Regions from separate parts of the Homo sapiens genome. Here region 1 is linked to region 2. A link means that fine-mapping ties the variant in region 2 to the expression of a gene that starts in the linked region. Tissue or cell type: whole blood. Region 2 holds a variant in brackets; the other region holds the start of a gene. All regions are shown on one strand. Distances are between the middles of the regions. Region 1 holds the start of LMNB1 (lamin B1). Region 2 has its middle 67 kb from the start of LMNB1.

Evidence for each region.
Region 1: LMNB1 starts here. The variant in region 2 is fine-mapped to the expression of LMNB1 in whole blood (INTERVAL, PIP 0.96).

Annotation. Positions count from the first base shown.
Region 1 is chr5:126,775,956-126,778,757 of GRCh38, forward strand. LMNB1 (lamin B1) reads left to right here and starts at 1,181. Exons shown (of 11, transcript NM_005573.4): 1 at 1,181-1,912. The coding sequence starts at 1,554. LMNB1-DT (LMNB1 divergent transcript) reads right to left here and starts at 531. Exons shown (of 4, transcript NR_134485.1): 1 at 340-531. RefSeq lists silencers at 1-7, 658-1,307, 1,508-1,587, 1,898-1,947, 2,158-2,267 and enhancers at 942-1,742, 2,758-2,802.
Region 2 is chr5:126,842,952-126,845,753 of GRCh38, forward strand. No RefSeq gene overlaps it. Among named protein-coding and RNA genes, the nearest start is that of LMNB1, 67 kb to the left of the region's middle. RefSeq lists an enhancer at 2,362-2,802. The variant G/T (reference allele first, on the strand shown) is at 1,186.

The DNA of each region.
Region 1 (2,802 bases), 67 kb before region 2:
GCCTCCCAAAGTGTTGGGATTATAGGCGTGAGCCACCGCGCCCGCCCGGATGAATTTTCAAATAGAAACAATCCAGTTTCCCACATCACACGGAGATTGTGTGGATGGGTAATCCATGAAAAGCCTGGTGCTGGCACTCAGTCCCAATAAATGTTAGCTAAAAATTAGGAACTTTTCAAAGGGATGAATGTGCTTTCTAATAGAAGTAGCTGCCAGTGACATCTTGGGAGCCTCTTTTTAAAAGCAAAAAATTATTTCATCTTAAATTTTCACAAGTTCAGATTTTTATGTACCTGATTTTAACGGAGTATGAAACAGCTTGCTCTCGTAGTTACTCACCGTCATATGTTAATCGTATCATTTCTGAGCTGTTTTTTGATTTTACAAACCCTTAAATTAAGAAACGGATTAGGAACCGCCCATTAACACTGTTGGCAAATGATTTAAAATCAGGGTTGCTGGTTTTTCTGTGATAATCTATCGGCTTCAAGACGCACAGATCTCACTTTCATGGAAAGAAGTTGCCTGATACAGTTTTCCACCGGAGAGAAAAATAAAGGCTGGTACTTGGAACCTGCAAGCCGTGCATTTGGAACCTCGGACTCAAGTGCCTATTACGTAATTCCACAGCGTCCCGGCCTCCAGGCCGTTTCCCGAGCCCTCCAGCGGAGCGGGGGATAAGGTTACCACGCCCGCGGTGGCCGGGGACACTCTGAGTTTCGCGTGTGGCTTTTAGGGACGTTTATATTTGAATTTCCCTGAACCGCCGAGTGTGGGCGGTGGCGCAGATCCGTCCCGGAAACCTCCGGGCTCCTTCCCGCCTTTCTCAGGCCCGGCCCCTCCAAGGGGTCCCCGCGGGGCGGCGGGAGGGCCCTGGGCCCAGAGCCGCGCGGGTGGGCAGTCCCAGGCGTCCTTCCTTACAGCCCTGAGCCTGGTCCGGGAACCGCCCAGCCGGGAGGGCCGAGCTGACGGTTGCCCAAGGGCCAGATTTTAAATTTACAGGCCCGGCCCCCGAACCGCCGAAGCGCGCTGCCTGCTCCCCATTGGCCCATGGTAGTCACGTGGAGGCGCCGGGGCGTGCCGGCCATGTTGGGGAGTGCGGCGCCGCGGCCCGCGCCACCTCCGCCCCCCGCGGCTTGCCTCCAGCCCGCCCCTCCCGGCCCTCCTCCCCCCGCCCGCCGCTCCGTGCAGCCTGAGAGGAAACAAAGTGCTGCGAGCAGGAGACGGCGGCGGCGCGAACCCTGCTGGGCCTCCAGTCACCCTCGTCTTGCATTTTCCCGCGTGCGTGTGTGAGTGGGTGTGTGTGTTTTCTTACAAAGGGTATTTCGCGATCGATCGATTGATTCGTAGTTCCCCCCCGCGCGCCTTTGCCCTTTGTGCTGTAATCGAGCTCCCGCCATCCCAGGTGCTTCTCCGTTCCTCTAAACGCCAGCGTCTGGACGTGAGCGCAGGTCGCCGGTTTGTGCCTTCGGTCCCCGCTTCGCCCCCTGCCGTCCCCTCCTTATCACGGTCCCGCTCGCGGCCTCGCCGCCCCGCTGTCTCCGCCGCCCGCCATGGCGACTGCGACCCCCGTGCCGCCGCGGATGGGCAGCCGCGCTGGCGGCCCCACCACGCCGCTGAGCCCCACGCGCCTGTCGCGGCTCCAGGAGAAGGAGGAGCTGCGCGAGCTCAATGACCGGCTGGCGGTGTACATCGACAAGGTGCGCAGCCTGGAGACGGAGAACAGCGCGCTGCAGCTGCAGGTGACGGAGCGCGAGGAGGTGCGCGGCCGTGAGCTCACCGGCCTCAAGGCGCTCTACGAGACCGAGCTGGCCGACGCGCGACGCGCGCTCGACGACACGGCCCGCGAGCGCGCCAAGCTGCAGATCGAGCTGGGCAAGTGCAAGGCGGAACACGACCAGCTGCTCCTCAAGTGAGTGCTAGCTGGCGGCCGCGTTAGCGCCAAGGAGGGGCGGGGGCGCAACCGCGGCGACCAGCTCACCGGGTTCTGCCGTGGGGAGGGAGCAGAGGCCAGGATGCACGCGTCCTTCTGAAGGAACAGGGTCTCGGTCTCCGGAAAGGAGAAAGAATCTAGAGTTCATAGCGGAGCAGGGGTCGCGGAGGGGGCTCGAGCTGTAGCGCTGGGGGGCCGTGATGCCCATTTCTAGATTTTGGATACCCGCTGGGACGTGGTAAGTGCGCGCCTGGGACTGCCGAGAAGGAGCTCCCGCTTTCGCACTCGAATCCGGGGAGCCGGCGCGGAGAGGCGGCCCCTCAGGCCCCAGGTGCGGGGAGCTGGAGCGCGAGCGCGCGCTCGCGTGCGCGCCCCAGTTTCCGGCCGGCGCGAGACAAAGCGTCTAGCGGATTTGCAGTGCCGGGATGGGCGGCCGGGGAGGACTGGCAGCCCGCCTCTAGAATGAATGAGCTTCGCGCGGGCAGAGAGAGGAAGGGGAGGGACCTTCCCGCAGCATCCGCGTCTCCTGGGGGTGGGTCCCGCTTTGGCGCGCTCAGTCTTGGCCCTGTGACGTTTTGCGAAGATTCTACGCCTGCTTTAGGCGGGAGAGAGAGGCGGAGCTTGATCCGTGCGCCTCCAGCCAGCCCCGGGCAAGTTAGGTTTGCTAGCTGGTTAGCTTTCTCTGGGGAAATGTGTCCTGTCCCAGCGGGGATGGTGCGGTCCCTCGGGTGGTTCTGCGCAGGGAAGGAAAGCTGGGTTTGTGCATGTCACGGCTACCGTTCTTAGAATTGCGGTTCTCCTACCCCTCAGGCAGCGGCCCTCTGTCCCCAGCTTTTGCCTCCTCGTAGTATAGTCAGGCTTTCGGGTAG
Region 2 (2,802 bases):
GACGCGGCTTAGGAGGAATCCCGGGCTGCGGGCATTCCTTGGCCCAGTGGCCAGATTTCCAGCAAGTGTAGCAAGCTCCTGTGGGAGGAGGTTCTGGAGGAACGCCTGGCCGCTGCAGTTCAGGCATTTGGAAGTTCTTATGTGCTGGAGATGTGGCTGGGGTTTGTCTCACAGTGGAGGCAAGGAATTGCAACTTTTTTCTATTATGGTACACCTTGAAGGCGAGGTTAATTAAATCCTGTTGTGGGGTTTGAGAGCCGGAATTTAATTTTTGGAGTTTTATTTAATGTCGGGAGCAGATTGGGCAATAAAATGTATTTTGAGAATAAGACGGCCTTTTGACCTTTTAGGGTCTAGGGCTGTAAAGTGTCTCAGGGTTGCTGCCAAACAAGTCATGAACTGGGCTGGATTTTTATATTCGATGAAAAAGAGCCTAAACGCTATCCGATTTGGGATAAAGAAAAAGGAGCATTAACCTTGACTGTGCTTTTAGCTCCAGCCACCTTTTTAAGAGTAAATTGCTGGGCAGGAGGGGGAGGGCTAGTCACGGAACGAAACTGAAAGCCGGACCAGGTGTGAGGAGGGGAGGTGATAAAAAGATTATAGGGTGGAGGAGCGGAGGCTGAGGAAGAATTGGCACCTAGCTCGGCCTGGCGAGGAGCAAGCAGGCTGGGGAGGAAGGGAGAGGTCAGATGGGTCTGTAGAAAAGGAAGATTAGAAAGACTCAGCGACACTTGGGGTTGGTACTGAGGGGACAGGCGGGAGGGAAAGAAGGAAGATTTGGCACGAGTTGCACTGGGCACAGAGACTAGGAAGGGACTGATGTGTAAAAGAATGCCTGGACGTCAGGCACCTCAGACCGTTTGCCTATTTTACGACAAGAATTATTTAGATTTTGCAGGATGGAAAAATTCAAAGTGCCATTTTCTGGCTATTTGGAATTACTGTCGAGTTTGTACTGGGGTCAAGCGGCATTGCAGAAAATAAGGCATTTAGGTTTTAGGTCAGGTGTGAGTTGAAGAGGTTTTAAGTTTTTGAGAACACAGGCCAAGGGAGTAGAAGGAGGAATGGAGGGTGGAAAGTTGCCCATAGTGAAGGAAGCAAGCCTAGAGAAAAGAGAGTAGAGAAACAGAGGGAAGGGGTTCGGGGGTTCTTACCTTCCAGAAAAGTGGGAAAAGGGGTTGG[G/T]GCGCAGAGATAAGAGGTCGGGGTGCGGAAATAAGGGATTGGGGCGCAGAGATATTAAGAGGTTGGGGCGCGGAAATAAGGGATTGGGGTGCAGAGATACGAGGTCGGGGCACGAAAATAAGGGATTGGGACACAGAGATAAGAGGTCGGGGTGCGGAAATAAGGGATTGGGTGCAGAGATAAGAGGTCGGGGTGCGGAAATAAGGGATTGGGACACAGAGATAAGAGGTCAGGGTGCGGAAATAAGGGATTGGGGCGCAGAGATATTAAGAGGTTGGGGCACGGAAATAAGGGATTGGGGCGCAGAGATACGAGGTCGGGGCACGGAAATAAGGGATTGGGACACAGAGATAAGAGGTCGGGGTGCGGAAATAAGGGATTGGGGCGCAGAGATATTAAGAGGTTGGGGCGCGGAAATAAGGGATTGGGGTGCAGAGATACGAGGTCGGGGCACGGAAATAAGGGATTGGGACACAGAGATAAGAGGTCGGGGTGTGGAAATAAGGGATTGGGGGTTCTTGCCCCGTAGAAAAGCGGGACTTGCCACTAAGGGTGAAGGAGAAGGGGTTGAGTGGTACTTGCCCCTCTCCCAGAAAAGCAGAGAAGGGGTAGAGACAAGGAGAGAAGGGGTTGGGGTACTTGCCCCTTCCCCAGAAAAGCGGGACTTGCCGCTAAGGGTGAAGGACAAAGGCAGGCGTCCCTGCGTGGTCTGACACCCTTGAAACGTGGGTGTATAATCAGAGAGGTGTCCCTGCAATGATTAAACACCAAGGGAAGGCTAAGGCTGCCTTCCCAGTCCGTGACTGGCGCCGGAGTTCTGGGTCCACCGATAAAACGTGTCTGCTTTGTCTCTCCCAGAAAATGAAAGGAATTGAAATTAAGAGAAGGGAGAGATTGAAGAGTGGAAAGGAGAAAGTGGTTGAGGGACAGTGAGAGAGGTTGGAGAAGAGAGTAAGAAGAGGCCGCTTACCTGATTTAAAATTGGTGAGATGTTCCTTGGGCTGGTCGGTCTGAGGACCTGAGGTCGTAGGTGGATCTTTCTCACGGAGCAAAGAACAGGAGTACAGGGGATTGATCTCCCAAGGGAGGTCCCCCAATCCGAGTCACGGCACCAAATTTCATGCACGTCTGTGTGAAGAGACCACCAAACAGGATTTGTGTGAGCAACACGGCTGTTTATTTCACCTGGGTGCAGGCGGGCTGAGTCCGAAAAGAGAGTCAGCGAAGGGAGATAAGGGTGGGGCCGTTTTATAGGATTTGGGTAGGTAAAGGAAAATTACAGTCAAAGGGGGTTTGTTCTCTGGCGGGCAGGAGTGGGGGTCACAAGGTGCTCAGTGGGGGTGCTTTCTGAGCCAGGATGAGCCAGGAAAAGGACTTTCACAAGGTAATGTCATCACTTAAGGCAAGGACCGGCCATTTACACTTCTTTTTTGGTGGAATGTCATCAGTTAAGGTGGGGCAGGGCATATTCACTTCTTTTGTGATTCTTCAGTTAGTTAAGGCCATCTGGGCTTATACGTGCAAGTCACAGGGGATGCGATGGCTTGGCTTGGGCTCAGAGGCCTGACAATCCGTGTCCCAGGGTTTTGATGGTATTGCTACAGAGGAATTTGGAAG